3 separate regions of the Homo sapiens genome follow, and all the other regions are linked to region 2. Evidence: fine-mapped expression QTL. A gene starts in region 2. Each other region holds a variant in brackets. All regions are shown on one strand. Distances are from middle to middle.

Region 1 (6,801 bases), 150 kb after region 2:
AAAACCGGAACTCACATGAGGCTGTTTATAATGTCAGTTTATCTCACTTACTGTGAATTTTTGTGTTTTATTGCAGAGACTTAAATGTGTTTATTACAGGATGCTGCTTTAGATCCCCCTGGAGATGGAATGCAATATGCAATATATGCACTGTATTATCTTTCTACAATCCAAAAATTTCAAATTCCAAAGCACATCTGGGATTGCAGAGCTGTAATCAAGAATTTTCTTCTATAATGGAGATAAACTTGTTCAGCTGCTGGAGGGATTGGGGTTAAATTTAAGCAATAGTCTTATGGCCATAAGAGTGGTTAAACACAAATAATTTCTCCCAAAGACTGTGTTAGGTTGAGAGATCAAAATCAATCAATATTTAACCTAGAGTTCAAACTTAAAAGTCAATTTCTAGCTGTCTACAGGACTCTGACCCTCACACATCAGATCTTTTTCCTAGTGGTAAAGTAAGGGGGTGGATGGGGAATGCAACTCAACACACTGGGGAGAGGCGTCATCAGGTCAGAAAGAAGAGAAAATAAAATATTAGTCTTTTGGCAAATTTTAGGTTTTTTGTTTTTTTTTTAGCCGGATTTTCCTCTCGTTACCCAGGCTGGAGTGCAATGGCACAATCTCGGCTCACCGCAAACTCCGCCTCCTGGGCTCAAATGATTCTCCTGCCTCAGCCTCCCAAGTAGCTGGTATTACAGACGTGCGCCACCACACCCAGCTAATTTTGTATTTTTAGTAGAGACGGGGTTTCTCCATGTTTGTCAGGCTGGTCTCAAACTCCCAGCCTCAGGTAATCTGCCCACCTCAGCCTCCCAAAGTGCTGAGATTACAGGCGTGAGCCACCATGCCCAGCCTTGGCAAACTTGATGTGTCTGAAGCAGGTGATAAGAACTTAGTTCCAGGAATGGGTTTGGTGTGGATTTCATAAAAGACTGGGTTTTTCAGAGGGATGGTACCCATTTACCTCCTACTTAGAAGGCTCCTCATCAGCATCAGCTGGTTAGAGACAGCGAATAAAACACAACTTTCAGTTACAGTATTTTCTAGGGCAGCGTGTCTCAGACTTACCGGTACACACAAATCACCAGGGCATCTTGTTAAAATGCAGATTCCAGTTCCTTAGGTTGGGTTGGGATTGAGATCCAGCATTTCTAACCAGCTGCCAGGTCCTTCTGTTGCAAGGTCAGGGCTTTTTAAACTTCAACTTGCGTATCCTGCAGGGCTAGTTAAACACAGCCCCACCCTCAGAGGGTCTGATTTTGAAAGCCTGGAGTGGGCCTGAGAGCCTGTGAATTCCTCCCAAGTAATGCGGCTGATGCAGGACCACATTTTCAGTGTTTTCAAGAAAAAATTAAATAAAACAAGCATGCCATTCTTTCAGGAGTATTATTTATTTTTATTTTTATTTATATATAATTATTGTACATATTTCAGATCTATCATTAATATCTGAATATTCATTTTTGAATAGAGGTAAGCATCTAGATCATTTAGATATAACCTGGTGTGAAAAATCTCCTTGTAACCTTTATATGTTAAAATGCTATCAGTAAGTTGGAGTATAAATATATATTCATTATTGTAGGAGTTTAAAGTGCTACTATAATTAGTGATTGTGAAAGCTGAGGATTTTACCTACAAAATCAATAATTTAAAGCTTTCAAGTAGTTAAGTCAAGCAAGATCAGCAGCTAATAGAAATCTAGTAAAAGAGAATGTCTTGGCCAGGTGTGGTGGCATGCACCTGTAGCCCCAGCTACTCAGAAGGCTGAAGCAGGAGGATTACGTGAGCCCAGGAGTTCCAGGTTGCACTGAGCTGTGATGGTGCCACTGCACTCCAGCCCGGGCAATGGGGCAAGACCCTGTCTCTACAAAATAAAGTTACAAAGAGAGAATGCCTCTACTAGATAACTTTAGGAACACTCCATCCTTTTTGAACCAACAAATGTTTACACAATTTTAAATAAGAATGGAAGGCAGAATAAAAGGATTATATGTAAAACATATTTGAAATCTTTGCAGAATTATTAGATTATTATTCATGACATTAAAATAACCTTTAAAAACTGTATTTTTATTTCATGATTAAATTCCATTCCACCTATGAGTTTTAAAAGAGAACAGTCTACCCCGGAAGTTCCTTCTAAGTTGGTGATAGTTGGCTTCAGTCTGATATTTATTTAAACACTAGGCCAGTTAGCATTCAACCGAAATGAGTTTTGGCACACTTCCAGCACGAATCTTAAGAAATGAATCAGCGGAGCTCCCAAGATCATGGGTCAGACAATGCCCTTCCACCCCACTGGAGAAGCCCCAACCTCCCTGCCCAGCTCCCCTGCTTGGCACTCTTGTGGAATCTTGTGGAAAGTTAAACCAGTCTGTTGATTTCCTTTCTTGTGAAAGTTGGGTGAGGTTAGGGTTGCCAGATTAAATACAGGATGTTCAGTTAAATTTGAATTTCAGATTAACAATACATTATTTTTCAGCGTCTGTTCCAAATATACGGGACAAAAGAAGGCTTCCCCTCCGTGTGCCTTCCAAAGGTTTGCTGAAAATTAGCTGGCAATAGGCAGATTAGTAGGAGAATAAGACATACAAACTTATTTAACATGCATAAGCACAGGGGAATTCTGGAGGATGATTACTCAAATAACCCAGTGAGGTCCAGATGCATATATGCCCGTCTTCATAGGGGAAGAGGAGATGGGGATATAGGAGTGAATAATTTTTAGTGCGGAATGAATGGACCTGGGTGGCAGGCAGTATCTTGTAAATGATTCTCTTTGGAAATTGATTGGGACCTGAGAACAAACAATGGTTTGGGACAAAGTTTGCCTGGGCTCTAGACATGGTGTTTAATGTTCAGTCTCTTTCTCTGTGATATGAGTTTATCTCTTCTCTGGTTGATGAATTTCAGGGAAGAAATCAAAGGCAATTGTGCAATTTTTTGGTATGTCTGGTTTCTAGGCAGATAAGGGAATTTCAGAGAATAACCTCATCTTGTGCTTTGTGAGAAGTGTTGAGAGACAGGATCGGGGTGGTTGGTGAGATCAGAGAGATATTGAGGCTGCTTCCTTTGTTCTGCACGCCAAAGAGCCATATTTAGGGGTGTTGTTTTATGAACCCCAACATATCCAACATGTGGAACATTCCTGTAT[T/G]TTTATTTGCTATATTTGGCAACATTAGGCGAGGTACCAGCTGCAGGAAAATTATCATAAGATATTGTCTCTGAAACTCAACATTTCTTCCCTTGTAACATCAAATGGGAGACATGAAGAGGAGAATGATAGTTTCTTTAAATTTATAAGGTATGGTATAAAAGCAATTTGCCAAGGGCTCCATTTTTTAGTGTAAATTTCATCTAGTCTTTAAAACACTGGTTAAAAACTGAGGAAATCTTAGTTCCAGTCCCACTTCCACCATAGACTGGGTTTGACACGTTGAGATAATTATTGATCTTGTTTCATGGCTCTAAGACACCAATGCTTATCAAATAAACCATTTAAAAAATGCCACCAGGAGAGAAAAAATGCTGCCAATTAAACTATGACACAATACTAAAACACCATTGATGTGTGAAGATACATCTTTATTTCAGAGATATTAAAATGTGAGGGAAAAAATGAGCATCTTGGAATTCACAAAGCATGATATTTTGACTTGCTTCACTTATATAATGAAGATAATTATCATTTTCCCTACCAAATACATATAAAGATTAGACCAAGAAATTAATAATCAGCTTTTGTTTCACAGTCTAGTTTTGAATTGCATGACAGGGAACTTTAGTTTCCAATATAGAAAGTTTTCCAGTGACTGAACCTGTAGAAGTAGCATAAAGAAAAGTGAAAATGTCTTATAGTTTGTTTGAAAGATTTTTTTCAGTTGTAGGTCAAAATTATCTGAGTCTTTTGATCCACTAGTGTAGAATCATCTTTATGGTTAGAGACAAATGTCATTTAAACAGGAAGCAGCTGAATGCAAGAGTTTGTGTCATCTGCCTGCTCATCTATCCTTTGATCTGTTGATCCATTGACCCACTGATCCATCTACCCATCCCTTATTCATTCCTACCTCCATCTTCTATTTATCCATCCATCCATTTATTCATTGAATAATCCACCCAACATTTATTAAATTTCTATTCCATGCCAGATAGATAAAATTTGAGAACACAGAGATTAAATAGTTCTTGCATTCAAGGAGGTGCCAATTTTTTAAAAAAGTACTGAAATCCTCTACTTACTAAGAGGTCAGATCTTTTTGCATCCAAAAATCTCAGGAAAATAGCTTACACCTTCTCTTATGTGGACTACTCCCTTTCTCTGGTCAGGACTCAGAACACAGTATTACAAAGTATTGTGATACTTTTTGGAACACTGAGTATTTTTGAGCTGAAGGAGATAGGAAGGACCTCAGAAGCTAGAAGGTTTCCCTGATCTTCTCCCCCCATCCTGTCTCTCACCCCTTTTTCTTCCCCAAAGCAAGCCATAAGACCTTATGACCTACCTTTCCTGAAAGTAGATCATAATACTCTCATATGACAGATGTCCTGGGGAAAGGAATGCTACACAGAGAGACCAAGAAGAAGCTGAACAAAGAGACTTTGCTGAATTTCCTCCTCAGTTTATTACTAGATCATGCACTTTTTGTCCAGTCATGTTTCTCCTCAGCTATCCACTTATTTCATCAGACTTAGCCTAAAAATACAGTTTTCCCTGCATCTTTCGGTCTTCATTTCTGAAGATTCCATGTCATATAAAACTTTGATTAAATACATTTGTTACATTTTTCTCTTGTTAATCTGTCTTTTGTTATAGACGTGTCAGCTATGACCCCTGCAATGGGTGAGGAAAAGGTATTAACTTCTTTTTTTCTTTTTCTTTATTATTATTATACTTTAAGTTTTAGGGTACATGTGCACAATGTGCAGGTTAGTTACGTATGTATACATGTGCCATGCTGGTGTGCTGCACCCATTAACTCGTCATTTAGCATTAGGTACATCTCCTAATGCTCTCCCTCCCCCCCTCCTCCCCCCGACAACAGTCCCCAGAGTGTGAAGTTCCCCTTCCTGTGTCCATGTGTTCTCATTGTTCAATTCCCATCTATGAGTGAGAACATGCGGTGTTTGGTTTTTTGTCCTTGCGATAGTTTACTGAGAATGATGATTTCCAATTTCATCCATGTCCATACAAAGGACATGAACTCATCATTTTTTATGGCTGCATAGTATTCCATGGTGTATATGTGCCACATTTTCTTAATCCAGTCTATCATTGTTGGACATTTGGGTTGGTTCCAAGTCTTTGCTATTGTGAATAGTGCCGCAATAAACATATGTGTGCATGTGTCTTTATAGCAGCATGATTTATAGTCCTTTGGGTATATACCCAGTAATGGGATGGCTGGGTCAAGCGGTATTTCTAGTTCTAGATTCCTGAGGAATCGCCACACTGACTTCCACAATGGTTGAACTAGTTTACAGTCCCACCAACAGTGTACAAGTGTTCCTATTTCTCCACATCTTCTCCAGCACCTGTTGTTTACTGACTTTTTAATGATTGCCATTCTAACTGGTGTGAGATGGTATCTCATTGTGGTTTTGATTTGCATTTCTCAAAAGGTATTAACTTTCTTACCCGTACACGTCTCATTGACTATTCAAAGCCCACTCATTTCTTCAAAAGTCCGCTCAAATCCTCCCACTCCATGAAGTCTTGCCTTATGAATCTCCCCCTTTTCCAAATTCCCAAATTGCTTAAAGTATTTTATTTGGCTCCTAATTGGGCATTGAATGAGTAAAATATATAGTATGTTAGATAGTAATACTAGCTAAGGAGAAAAATCAAGCAGGAAAGAATACGATGAATATCCAGAAAGGAGGAGGTTTGAAGTTTTAAATAAGGTGATCTGTGAAAGTCTTACTAAAAAGCAGAATTTTGAGTAGTAATCTGAGTTAAGCAAGGGGTGAACCATGTGGGTATAAGGGAGTGAAATTCCAAGCAAAGAGAACAGCTAGTACAATAGCCCTGAGGTGGGAGTGTATCTGATATGCTGGAGGAACAGGAAGTAGGCCATTGTGATTGTAATGCAGTGAATAAAAAGATGAAGTTGGACACTTTGGGAGGCCGAGGCTGGTGGATCACGAGGTTGGGAGATCAAGACCACCCTGGCTAAAAAGGTGAAACCCCATCTCTACTAAAAATACAAACAATTAGCTGGACGTGGTGGCGGGTGCCTGTAGTCCCAGCTACTTGGGAGGCTGAGGCAGGAGAATGGCATGAACCCGGGAGGCAGAGCTTACAATGAGCCAAGATTATGCCACTACACTCCAACCTGGGTGACAGAGCGAGACTTTGTCTCAAAAAAAAAAAAAAGATGAAGTTGGAATACGAAATCAGAGAGGTAAGGGAACTAGGCCTTGTAAGGTCTGTAAGTTTTACTAACAACCTTGCATTTTACTCTGAATGGGATAGAGTGCCATTGGAGGGTTTGAGAAATGACATGATCTAATTTATTTATTAACTAATTTTTAACATACTCTCTTTGCCCTCTGTGTTGAGAGCAGACTGTGGGATGAGGCAAGGGTGGATGTGAAAAGACCAATTAGGAGGACTTTGCAATAGTTTAGTCAATAAATAATGGTGACAGTGGTGGGTAGAGAGATGTGGTTAAATTTGGAACATATTTAGAAACAGGTCCGTTAGAATTTGCTGATGGAATACAAAAGAAAGAGAGTTAAGGATGGAGCCTGGGCAACTAGAAGGTTAAAGGCAGCATTACCTGAGATTAG
Region 2 (6,801 bases):
TGCTAGACATGACACTCAGTGCTTCATAATTTCCTTGTGTATTTGCTATAATTATTGTCTCCATTTTACCTATGAGATAATTGAGATACAAAGAGGTTACAGAACTAATATGATTCCTAAAAGATTTACTCAAGGAATACTGTGATCCCTAACAAATAGCCTTTTTGAAGTGTACTAATTTGGACTACCATTTTCTCTGCCTCTCTGTTCCTAATTGTCACAGGTTCTTCCTCCCTACTGGACCACAGGCGTGTCTCAGCATTGGGAAGGGTCCTAGGATGCATTGTAAAAGAAAGTCTGTAATTTTGGTGCATCAAGGAACAAAAGTGTGGAAACATCCAGCCTGTGGCTGCTGGACACTCCCCTTCTTCCTTCTCACCATACTGTCTGTAATAAAGAATAAAGTGTTATTTAATATTCTGAGTGTACAGTCCTATTTTTTCTTAACCTGGCAAACCAGAAACAGCAACTAATATTCCTGGTTCTCTTTTTACCTTTCACAAGATCTATATCTACCTTAGAGGCTTCAGGGAACAAGAACAGCCTGGATAGTTTAAACCTAGAGTTAAACTACTCGAGGCATTTTAAGGTACCGCTACTTCACTATATATAAATGGGGTGGGGGGCTGGATTAAGGGCTAGAAGAATATATGAAGAGAAAGTGGCAAGCAAACCACTTGGAAAGCAAACCAAGGAATCAAAACAGTTGCTCTATCAAACTGAATATTCTTGCGCAGAACTGAATATTCTTTGCCCTCACAGTGTTTTGAAACATTGTCATAGGGTGCCAGGCATGTCCCAAAGGAGGACCCTGGAGAGAGGGCTTCTGAGCTGGGCTATCTCTAAACTGCTTCCAAGTTGACTTTGGAAAGATCACATGGGATTTTAGAAAAGTTATTATTATTATGACTTATAAAATTGTAGTTATTGAGTCAACTATGAATCTTGCACCTTACCTTGGAGATACAAGCTAAATACCTTGGACCTAGAGCTACTGCAAACCAGAATACTTTGGGGCATAATGTACCAAAAAAGCTTTCAGAGGCTTGAATTATCACAGTGTAAATATCCATCTAGCAGAGCAGGTAATTTTCTCGTTACTCATCCTAAGCATTAGATACTCTGTGTGTTAGTTCTTTGCAGAAATAACCCATAGCAGCTGAACCATTTTGGAACAAATTTTCCATCACCTTCCTTCCCTGTGTGGTTCAGGCCTTTGCAAACCCTGAGTATCATGAATCTGCTGGTTCTCTACTGGCAAAGATGATGACGTTTTCTTGTTTGTTTTTGTTTTGCTTTAATCATGCCGTGAGAAAATCCTAAGGGAAAAAAATCTCATTATCCTATTCAAAATACATTTAGGGTTATCTGGTCATCCCTAGCAGATTTTTATGTACCCAATGTTTATGTATCTCAAATTACACTCTGTTACCTTTCCCAGAGCAAGATGAAGAACCTCTAAGAACCTCTCAAACAGCATCATTTTCACAACAAGCACTAGCAATGGAAAACATTGTCACCACCACCAGCTAATCTTGTAGGGTCCATGGTATTTTCTGTAATGCCTTGAAACAGTCTGCCTCTCTCTTCTTGTCTGTCATTTTTATAGATGTCAGTGTGGGGCATCAGCAGTTGAAAACTCAGAATACCAAGCCAGTCCTTCCCTGTGACTGCTACATAGCTTTTGCCTGCAGGATAAGCCTCCATCACTGACGTAGTTGCTTTTTAACTTCTTTTTTTTTTTTAACTTGGAAAATCCCCCACCTCCTCCATTCCTTCACAAAACTTTCTGCCTGAATGATTTCTAGTCTGAGGGCCATACACACATTTTTTTTTCTCCCTCTGCAGGTTTTTTTTTCTCTTCAAACTTCCGCATGCTGCCTTTTTTTAAAGTGTCACACTTTGGAAAAAATTCTGACTACAAAGGATTTTGCAGTACATTGCATTCAAACCCCTTTCCCCCTATTCCAACTTGCTTTATAATGAAAGTAAGAGCCATACTCAAGAGACTTTTATTGGCAATTAAGTATCTAAGGACTTTGCAGATTTTCTTCTTTATTGTATGGCAATCTTAAATGTTTAATGAATATTTAAGTAAACAAATTTCAGCAACATGCCTTTTTTAGGAATTTGGCTTTAATTAACATCCAAACACTGTTAATTATTATGGCAAAAACATCAATACGTCAAAAAAAAGCCTTCAGGCCAGGGAATCTTTAAGAAACAATTATGTCTACTAATTTCGATTAAAGGTATCCTTTATTAAATTCTTAACAACCCGTCTCTTTCTAAACGCAGCGCCTTCACAACTCTTCTTCCCTTCCCCCTACCCCGCTTCCCTCCCTCCGCAATGGAGCGCAATCAAAGGCCGTATTATTGCCTAAGCTTGGCTCTCAGGCCAGCTAGGGATGTGTGTGTGTGTGTGTGTGTGTGTGTGTGTGTGTGTGTGGTGGGGCGGGGGTGGGGGGCGAGGGTGCAAGGGGAGAGGTTGTACGCCGCTTTTCCGAACCCAGCTCTAAATGGTTTCTCCTAAGCGAGACAAGGATTTTCCATAGCCTAAAAGAGGCCATCAAGTTTTAACATTGCGAGGCACGACTTCTAATCGCATCCTTCCCGGAAAAGTACAAACAGTTCCTCAGACGAGGTCCCCCACCTCCCACGCGCTCCCCAGCCCTCCCTCCCTGCGGAGAGCCCCGCGACAGCCTCCCCAACACCTGTGAATCATCCGGGAGGCTGCCACCGCCGAGCGATCCGCGCACCACCCCCTTCCCGGGCCCGGGCACGGCCAGGGAGGACAGTTAGGGTTGTTGCTTTATAATTATCACTTTTAATCTCTAATACGACCAGCACAAGTAGCCTTTGTCTCCCCGCCCTGATTTGAGCATCCGAGGGCCCCCCGAGGCAGCCTGCACGGGTACCCCGGGGTTTGCGCACTGAGTGAACCCCCAGATTCGGCCGTGTCCCAGCCGTCCTTGCTCTGAATCCCCCACCTCCTCCCGGCCGTTTGGACGGTTCCCTCGGGGCGTCTGTGCCTCCGTGGGGTACCCCTAAGACACCCAGCATGAAACCCCAGCACCGACTGCAAATTCCACCGAAAGCAGAGTCATCCGTTTTTGCCCTCGGCAAACAACTCAACTTCAAGCCTCGAGTCCTTGCAAACCCACGCTGGCTGGGCTAACTCCGCTTCCCTTCTCCTTCCCCCGACTCCTGCAACAGCTCAGAGAGCCTGGCTCTGACGTAGTTCAAAATAACGTGCGCCAGCCTCGCTGCCCGGCTGACCACAGCAACGAGAGCCACAAGCCCTCGACGCTGCTTCGATAACATGAAGCAATCACTCATAAAAATAGCAACCCACGTAGCCTGGCCATATATGGAGCTGGCGAGGGTGGACGGGGATGCCCCTACGGACCCTCTTCGGAGAAAACAAATCGCCGCTGAAATTTCCCCCACCCCTCCCATCACTACCTTTTACCCCTCCTCTGCCTTCCCCTCTCCTTAGATGACTCAACCACAGATTCCACTGAAAGGGGGTGGGGGTGGGGGTGGGGGGGAATATATACACATACACACAAATTATACATATATTATACATGTATTATAAAATATACACACACATACATATATACATACACACACATATACACATATGTACACACACACGCACACACACCAAAGAACATCAGGAATGCAGTTGCGGGATGAACGCGTTTGCCCAAGACCGAGTGTTAAAATGGAGTCATAAGAGTCGCCCCGTGCGGGTGTTTATAGAAGGTGAAAACACGCAGGTTTGCAGGCCAGCGCACTGGGAACCGAGTCAAGCGCGCCGCAGCCCGGGCCCCGCCCCCGCCCCCGCCGTGCCCCGCCCCCACTTCCTCCCGCCCCTCGCTGGGCGGCTATTAAAAGCTGCTGACGTCAAAACGGACGGCCATCTTTGATGAGGGCAGAGCTCACGTTGCATTGAAGACGAAACCTCGGGGAGGTCAGGCGCTGTCTTTCCTTCCCTCCCTGCTCGGCGGCTCCACCACAGTTGCAACCTGCAGAGGCCCGGAGAACACAACCCTCCCGAGAAGCCCAGGTAAGAACCCCCCTCCCCAGGTCGTGGCTCTGGCTCGGGATGGCTGCATACCCAGAAGGGACAGCAGCTGGGCAGTCCGAGTGGGCTTGGGTAAATACAAGTATTGGTGCACTTAGGGTGCGGTATTCCGTGTGTGCACGTCTGGTGGGGGCTTTATAAAGTGTTTTCGAGGTGAGCTGCTGGGGAAAAGGGAAACGGGAGCCCTGCAAATGGAGCGACGGGGAGGAAGAGCGAGGGTACGTACCGAATAATAACTTACTCTTTTGAAACAGTAGTGGGACCCCCTCTTTCTTCCATTTTGCGATGCAGTTTTCAGAGATATTTAGGCTGTTGAGTTTTCCTCCCCTGTCGTTCTAACCCTATTATTATGACTGTTGTCGTTAGGGTGCTATTATCCAGGGAAGAATTAAGGGGGAGACAGGGTGTGGGTGCTGGGGAGGCGAAAGGAGAAAGGGGGAGTTCCCGCCCCGGGCAAGCTGAGCTGCTGCAGCGACAGCAGCCTCCATGCCCCGCGGACTTGATTTATGCCGCCTGCTCCACGTCAACTGCAGGCTGGCGGGAGGCGGGCGGGTCGTGCCGGGTGGGAGGGCTCTGCGGAGGGCTGGCGCGGGTGGGCTGGCTTCGGGGACTGCGGCGGCCCGCGCTCAGCACCCTGGATAGCAACACCGAGGGCTCGCGCGGGCGCCCTCGACCTTTCAGCACCGGGGACAGCGGTCCGGCCGCAGCGCCTCATCTGCCTGCGGCAGAAATGCCTGGCCGGGGCTGGATGTGCCAGGGCTGGAGACCAAATTGTCTCCCTGAGACCCCGGTCTTACGGAGACCCTTAATAGAGGAGTCATAGTAGCTTAAAAGAAAACAAGAAAGAAATAAATCTTCCTCACAGAGACTCCTTTGCAGACAATTTCCTGTTCCCCTCCTCACCTCCTGCATAGCTTCAACAAAATAGTCTACTTGTGGAAATCTTCTGTGTTGCCCTCTGACCCTTATTTTACGTAGAAAATAAATACATTTTTTAAAAAATATGGATTTATCCTCCAGCAGGGTATCAAGGTTTTTGTTTGGTTTTGTTTTTTAACACAGAGTAGATCTGTCTACAGATCTTGGGTGAGCATAAGTACTGTATATATGAAGAAGCCAATGCTATCTGTTTATAGGGATGATACATCTCTCTCTATGTTTCCATTTGATAAAAATGTGAGATTAGCTGAACTAAGCAGAATCAACTTTAAGAATGAATCACTCTTCCTTTTCCTTCTTCCCCCATCCTTGCAATCAGGCATGAATACAAGCATTCATCCACAAAAACACATATCTGAGAAATTTTACTGGTCCTGTACTGAATAGATTTAACCTCTTTGGCCACGGTTTCAGAGTTACTGGAAGTATTTGCTATCAGCACTGGTTATCGCAGGCTGATAGCTTTAGATTTTGACAATATTAAGACTGGCCTTCCTCAGGAGAATCCAAGTGTGTCCTTCAGGGTAATGCAGGTAAAGAACCATGGTGTTAAACTAGAACTTAACTCTGACCTAAAGGTCTACTGCAATTTCTCTTATGGCACTGCGGGATTTTGCTGAGGTGGTAATAACTACTTTAACCATTTTCTACTCTGAGGCTTGGAGCATCTGAGAGAGCAAAAGTCATCAGGGGTATTTCTCTCTGTTTGATGTAGATAAAACTGGCATAAAAATGACCAGAGTCAAAATTATGCCATTTGAGTCATTAGCAAAAAAGAGTAACAGCGTCATATGTAATAATCTATACAATGCATTAAAGAAACGCTATCATGATCCCCTTAAAAGACCCCAAATGAGAACTTGGATTGTGTTTAGATAGTCATACCTCCTATCATCTGTATGCTACAGACACTAAAATTCCCTGTCCATATACAGAAGGTAATTTCATTCGCTGCTATTTAATTATTTCCTAGTGTTTTTTCTTTTTATAGATGACCATGTGTTTCCATGTATGTATATGTTGATCTGTTATTTTGCATGGATGTAAAATTATTTGGGTGGACATTTATATATGAGTATGTAAACGTATAAAAGAAGTTTATAACTTTGCAATCTGCAGACAAAAATAAACAACTGTGTTTTAGTAGTGGAGGAGAGAAAATATGGGCAGGAATCTTTAAAAATGCTTTAACTTCATGCTGCATGTCCAGACAGCTGTCTGCGTAGTTGCGTCAAATGAAAAGCCTAATGCTGCCGGAATTACGTGCTTGGACATTAGTAATTACTGCTGGGTTTGTTTGCTAGTGGAAGACTGGGGAGGAGCGGGGGAAGTAGAGGACCGCAGTGAAGATGGCAAAGGGCACAGAGCTGAGAGGAAGAAGCAATGTGCACAATTAGAAAGCTAATTTTAGAATAGCTTACTGAGAAATTTAAAAAATATATCATTGAACCATGAATTTAACATTTATATCATTGACAAGCTTCCAGGGAAAAAAAATCGAGAAATTTCCCATTTTAAGTTAGAATTTTTAAAATCCAGGGCAATGCGGTGAGAAGAGGCAGGAGCAGATGGACATAGGATGAGCCAGGAGTCATTCACACAGACCCTCTGATGCCTGTTTGTTCATCGGCATTTACTGCATTACCACCTCAGTGTTCAAATTACAGAACAATTTACAATCCTCTTAACCTCTTCATGGCAAAATCTCCCAAGAATTCACAATTTTATTTTTACTTTGTTAAACACGCACAACCACACATGCACAAACA
Region 3 (6,801 bases), 490 kb after region 2:
ACCAGATTCAATAATTAATTATAGTTAATCTTGCAGCAAAACTCCCTAACCTTCCTAAACAAATCTCTGACTTCATATATTTTATCGATTGCTATTACCTTCTAAAAAATGATAATACTTTAAAAAAGCATAAACTGCAACAAAATTATCATACCTTAAAAATATTAACAATAATTTCCTAACATCCACCAATATTCACGTGCGAAATTTCTCATCAGAAGAAGATGTAGAGGCTGGGCTTGGTGGCTCACACTGGTAATCCCAGCACTTTTGGGAGGCTGAGGTCAGCAGATCACTTGAGGTCAGGCATTTGAGACCAGCCTACCCAACAAGGTAAAACCCCTTTTCTACTAAAAATATAAAGATTAGCTGGGTGTGGTGGTGCATGCCTGTACTCCCAGCTACTTGGGAGGCTGAAGTGGGAGGATCACTTGAACCTGGGAGACAGAGGTTGCAGTGAGCCGAGATTGTGCCCCTGCTCTTTAGCCTGGAAAACAGAGTGAGACTCCATCTCAAAAAAAAAAAAAAAAAAGATAAAGAAAAAGATGTAAACACATTTGGCCTATTTTTTGGTATGCGATATTTTAGATAATTTTAGATCATAAATGCCCTTTTCCCAGGAAGTTGTTTCTTATCTTTGCTATACAAACTTATTCCAGATTCTATAAGGACATCAAAAATTAGAATAAGGGTACATTATATTTGTATGAAAAAAATATATAAAAAATTAAACAATATATCTTTAGTAAAAAGAAAAATCTTTCATGTGCACAGATGTTTTGGTTTTTATGTTAGCCTCTGTGAGACAGCTGGATATGTTGGAAATAAAGAAATAACATAACAGATACCTGTGCTTCATTCGTTTGACCTCAGCATAGTATTCTTTCTCCTTTACCCTTGATGTTCACTCTCTCTCTTTCAATATAATGAAGTCTATCAAAATATAAAATTTTATGGGCTTTGGAAATAGTCTGAGATTCAAATGCAGCAGGATTTGGTCATGGATTCAAAAATAGGGGCTTGAGACCTAGAGATAGCTATTTTAAATATATAAGGCCATTTTCCTAAAGTGTAGGAAGAAAACTGTGAGGAGAGCGTTCAGCTCCCTCATAAGCTAAGCTAGTTTCATACCTTCTGAATTGGTGTAGATCAAATACTGAAGTAAAATGGTAACTGAAATGAAACATAACAGAATGACCTCATTCAAGTCATGAGTATGGGGTGGGGGGTGTGTATGTATTTCTGTATGTATCTGTGTGTATGTATGTGTAAGTCTGTGTGTGTGTGTCTGTGTGTATGTGAGTCATCTGTGTGTATAGGTGTGTGTGGCCACTTGTGTGTATGTGTGTGCACCTGTGTGTATATGTGTGCATGAATGTGTGTATGTATGTATGAGTCTATATGTATTGTGTGCCTGTGTGTGTGAGTTAGTGTGCATCTATGTGTGTAGGTGTGTGTGTGTGTGAGTGTGTTCAAAGAAAAGCAAATAGTCTCCCTTGGATTGCCCCAATACCCTACTCATTTCTTTATAAGATAAAACCACAAAAACTAACAAATGCAGAATTCTGCTTTTCACTGAGAAACGCAAAGCCACTGGTGCCTGCTTTCTTTGTTTAAAAAAAAGAGTTAGAAAGGTCATCCAAGATAGGAATAAATGGAGGCAGAGGCAAATCAATGTTTAACTTGGAAATATTTTTCAGTTAATCATCTCTGACCGCTCACACTAAGAGGGCACTCCTAGAGTGTTGGCAAACGTGAACTGGAAGTCACTAAGCTACTAGTAAAACAGCCAGACGTCAGGATCCGTATAATCAGAAAGCCTGAGGCTCTGTAGGTTTAACCTAAAATGGCGAGAAAACCTTCTTCTGAAAATATGATCTAGAAATATTTTGACTTCTAGACTTTTGCTTCCAAGTATGAGGATTATGAAACCATAGGACTTTCCTTGCTTTAGGATTATAAAAACCTGGGACTCATACCTGGTAGGAAATTTGTTGAAAGGTGTGGGAAATCGTCTTGGAGTCTGTGATATAGCTTTCTCTCCCTGTTTTCTTTTCTGGCATATGTAACTTTATAAAATGCTACAGAATGTGACTTAGTAGCTTTGTGGCTCTTTTGTTGGCTTTTTTGGTCATTTTGTTATAAGGAGCAATCTTTAAGAAAGGTATGGAAAGCATATGGGGCCAGTGGGGTCAATATTTGCTCTAATGGGCAAATAGACTTTGTTAGTCTCATTTCCATTTTTTGTGTGTTTGTAGATGGCCAGCGATGAGGACAGGCTATGATTTTGACAGGCTTTGTTCATTCTTCTGTACGGGTGAAATAATTATCTGTCAAACAAAAGAAGTAACTCTTTTTGCCTTTGAATGTGACATACCCATTACATTCATGTAAAGTCGAGTTTGTAAAGAGATTCTTAGTCAAAATGTCACCCTTGACATAAGGCCATTGTGCTTGTGAACTGCTGAGCATATGGCATGCTTGCTATTCTGCGACCCACTGCTCCAAGAGTTCCCTGTGCCATGGACATTTCTTTACAAGAAGAGAGTAATGCAACTGGTGCCAAAACGATGAATATTCTAAGACCCCAAAGATGCATTTCTTTTATGAGACCTGATCTTTCTAACATTTGGATTCTAGACACATGAAACAGCTTGCAATAATTTAGCAGCAGTGAGATTCAGCAGAGCCATATTTGAATTATTGGAAAAGTCTGAATTTTGGTTTTGCATTTAGGGAGCCTTAAAAGATCTGATTTGTAAATGCTTTTGAAGAATTCACGTGGACTAGAAGGATTTTACAGGAAACATGAAAAAAAATGCCAGATTACATGTCTCCTTTATCATTCAAAAGAATAAAGTCTGTATCTGTTGTGTTCCTTTTGCTTTTTTTAAATTTTTTTTTATTTTTTGAGACAGTGTTTCCCTCTGTCACCCAGGCTGGAGTGCAATGGCACTATCTTGGCTCAATGCAACCTCCGCCTCCCAGGTTCAAGCGATTCTTCTGCCTCAGCTTCCCAAGTAGCTGGGATTACAGACACCCACCACTCCCAGCTAATTATTTTGTATTTTTAGTAGAGACAGAGTTTCACTATGTTCTTTTATGGTGAATGGACAGCAAGACCTTGATGGAACACACACAAAAAATTCTTCATTAAGTTTTGGCTTGGGTCTTTAATCTTGCAATGCTTTTAAATAACATTGCTTTTTGTTATTAACTATTACTTTATTTGGGGCCTGGATATCACTTCTCCTTGGCCATCACCTTGGTCCACCAGTGCTGGGAGAACTATAGGGCCATGATAAAACCCAGTGAAATCAAATGGTAAGAGTCTGCCCATGGGTTTATCTGCCACAATAACAGATGTATTTTCTTCCTATGAAGGAATTGTTTTCTCATTCAAACTTGCCTGAAGAGAGGACAGATGGTAGGTACTCTGCCTTATGTGTCGGTTAGCA[C/T]TGTTACATAACAAGCTACCCCAAACTCTGTGGCCTAAAACAGTAAGATTTATTGCCCTTGGTTTGGCTGGATACTTCTGACACTGGCCAGCTCACTGTGAGTCTCTAGCCAACTGTGGGACAGATAGGGAGCTCTGTTTTTCTAGGCTGGGCTCTTTCACACGTTCAATGGCTGGCTGACTGTAGGCTGATTTAAGGTCACTTTGAATGGGACAATTGGAATCTCTTCCATGCAGTCTCATCCTCTGGCAGGCTCTTCTGGGCTTGTTCCCATGGTGGTGACAAGGATCTGAGAGACAGAAGCATGCAAGACTTCTCAAGGCCCATACTTGGAGCTGATGTGCTGATACTTTCACTGCAAAGTTATAAGCAAATCACAAGACCAGCCCAGACTCGAAAGGGAGGGAAGTAGAATCTTCCTCTTGACGGGAGGATCCACAGAATCACATTGCAGAAAGTGTGCACACAAAGCAACCATTACTTCGCACTATGAATGCAATCAATATACTTCATCTTAGTTGGTAAGTAATCTTCAATAAATCTAGGGATCTCTGATCCAGGTGAAAGAGCTGTGATCCATGGCCAATTGCTCATACCATATTTCTCAAAATGTGGTATACAGGTATCTTCTGCATCAGATTCGCCTATGGGATTTGAGATGCCCTAGACCTACTGAATTATTATAGAATCTAATTCTGGGTCTCAGAAATCTGCTTGTTAATTAAACTTCTTCCCCAACTCCCACCCCATAACTCTAATATTCAGGTTTGAGAATTTTTGTATTAGACTCACCTACTCAACGCAATCATCAAAACATGTAGATTCAAGTAATAGAACATATTTTTCGTATCTGGAAAACTAACTCTGAAATGAATTACAAAAAATGTAGTTGGACTATTTCAGTGAATTGACTTAAACAAATTCTTACCTTCTCCCAAGTTATGATGAATATGTTATGTCATAGTGGCACCAGATTAACTGATAAACTCATATTGGAAAAACAAGTTTGATTGATTGCTTTTGCTTTAATAAATTTTCACTTGACTAGAAAAGAACACAGATATATAGAAGATATAAGTTTTGTCCAGTGCATCCTAGCAAGGAAGCAGGGGAGGAAAAAAGATGTCTTTACATCTTTAAAATCCTTATCTTAATCTTGAACTCAAAAGCCTTCCATAGGAGTCATCCAGATGCCCTGCAGGTAGGGACCAGCTCTATGTGTGTGTGTGTGTAGCTCTATCTTTTCATTAAAAGCTTCTTTTGAGTCACTAAAAACTTTAGATATTCTGGAAGATTCTTTTGGGGTCAAAAAATATTTTAATGAGAGCTAGAAGAAAAATCTGAAAGGGGCAAATGAGGTTTTAAACAGGCTAGTACTAAACTAGTTTCTTAGATTCTAGTCTTTACTGATACCAACTGAGCCTGCACAGAGGACCAGATTAGTCTTTTGAAAGCAGTATTGGGTGACTCTCATTCCTTGCTTGAAAACTGTTAATGATGCTTGTTGCCTCACTGGGTTTGCAAATTCAAAAGCATCAGGGGCTAGGGAAAGAAGAGTAAGTGAGTGAAACTGAATGGTTATGATTAATAGGGGGTGGTGAGGTTTCTGGTAAACTAAAAAATGCATGTCCTATTGAGAAGCAGTTAAGTTTAGATTTGCAAAAGAAAAACAAGACCTGCTCAATGGAACACATTTGTGGCTAAATTCAGCTCTTAGGCTACTTGTGTGTTACCTGTGGGCTGGCTCAAGTCCAGATTTATTAATCTGGCATTTGTGATTCTGTACAACCTAACATAGTGCTGTGAACAGAACAGGACTCTTTACTCTCATTTTTAATACAGAGAGGTGGAGGAGAAATATCATTAGGCTTTGGGAGTCTTGGGACTGAATTCTGATTCCACCACTCACTGCAGTAGTGTACAGCCTCAGATGACTCATTTTATCTGTCTCCGAGGCTTGTTTGTTTTTCATGTATACAATGTGGGCAGTAATGCCTGCCCTGCTTTGTTCATGTATTTCTTAGAAAAATAAAAGGATGCCGTTTAGAGCTACAGCACCAATACTGCAGCCACTGGCCATATGGGACTACTGAGAACTTGGCATGGGTCTAGTGTGACTGAGGAACTGTATTATTTAATTGTGTTTAATTTTGATTAACTTAAATTTAAGACCTGCTTGATTCAGGTCTTTGAAAACTTTTAAGAATGCCTGATACAACTTGAATTTGCCAATCTTCTTTTTAAACTGTAAATTTTAATCTAAATATAGATCAAATACTTCTGGTGAAAATTTACCATCTGAATTGAGATGTCTGTAAATGTAAAATACACACTGGATTTTGAAGATTTAATATAAAAAAGAATGTAAAACATATCAATAACTTTTTGTGTTGACTATATAACTTTTTATATTGATTATTTTAAATACATTGCATTAAATTAAGTATATTATTAAATTAATTTCACCTATTTCTTTTTACATTTTAAAAAATGTAGCCAATTGATTTGGACTCTCACCTCTGGAGACAGGACTAGAAATATAAAAATTACATAAGTGACTCATAATACGTTTCTACTGAACACTAGTGATCTATATGAAAGCTTTTAATGAACTATGATGTTATTATCAATAAATTCCACAAGTAGGTTGCAATATCTGTGAGCGTAAGGATCATCTACTATTATTTCTACTTTATTTCCCATCATATATTTAGGGCCTGGCCCAGTGCCTGGCACAAAGTAGGGGCTTGGTAAATATTCTGTGAACAAATACTTATTTAAATAAATTTAAATAGTTATTAAATGAATATGTATCCAAGCTGTGCCATTGTTTGCATTGCCTATTAAATGAGGAGGCTATAAAATGATATTTAAGTTGCTTCCAGCTCTGAAATACAATAAAATCTGACATGACAGGATACCATACAACAGGATGCAGTATTCTTTCACTCTATTTGAACATGTGTAGTCTTTTTTACTTGGCTGGGCTGCTGGGATTTTGCTATAGTCTCTTTACACAATACATGCCAATATAAGAAAGAGAAGCAAATCTTTCTTAGATGACAAAATCTAACTCATGCTGCCAGATTCTGATTAGTGATAAGGGAAGCAAGACTGGCCATATCAGCAACTATATGTTGGACCTTATCACTTTGTTTTTATTTTTGTTTTCAATCAAACTCCAGTTTTATTAGAATAATCCTCACTGCAGTAGGCATGCTTGCCTATAGATTGCAGAGGTTTTTTAATGCAGGTGGGGATTCCACACCTTGAAGTGAGAATTTGCCTCTTGGGAAGTAACGAGCTCTCCTGGAGAATGAATTGTCACCTCACATTTTCCATC

Alleles and levels. Positions count from the first base shown, and alleles are read on the strand shown. Sizes are in standard deviations (SD) of each study's normalised expression.
As copies of G replace T in region 1, the expression in lung of the gene that starts at base 3,928 in region 2 goes up (moderate effect, 0.60 SD a copy in GTEx).
In carriers of allele C in region 3, the expression in esophagus muscle of the gene that starts at base 3,928 in region 2 tends to be lower than with T alone (moderate effect, 0.65 SD a copy in GTEx).

Evidence for each region.
Region 1: its variant is fine-mapped to the expression of SNAP25 in lung (GTEx, PIP 0.94).
Region 3: its variant is fine-mapped to the expression of SNAP25 in esophagus muscle (GTEx, PIP above 0.99).

The regions. Positions count from the first base shown.
Region 1 is chr20:10,367,641-10,374,441 of GRCh38, forward strand. No RefSeq gene overlaps it. Among named protein-coding and RNA genes, the nearest start is that of MKKS, 63 kb to the right of the region's middle. The variant T/G (reference allele first, on the strand shown) is at 3,164.
Region 2 is chr20:10,214,903-10,221,703 of GRCh38, forward strand. It overlaps SNAP25 (synaptosome associated protein 25), which reads left to right and starts at 3,928. Exons shown (of 8, transcript NM_130811.4): 1 at 3,928-4,075. It overlaps SNAP25-AS1 (SNAP25 antisense RNA 1), which reads right to left and starts at 4,604. Exons shown (of 5, transcript NR_040710.1): 1 at 4,335-4,604. It overlaps LOC124904959 (a long non-coding RNA gene), which reads left to right. Exons shown (of 2, transcript XR_007067723.1): 2 at 224-417.
Region 3 is chr20:10,709,773-10,716,573 of GRCh38, forward strand. No RefSeq gene overlaps it. Among named protein-coding and RNA genes, the nearest start is that of JAG1, 39 kb to the left of the region's middle. The variant C/T (reference allele first, on the strand shown) is at 3,459.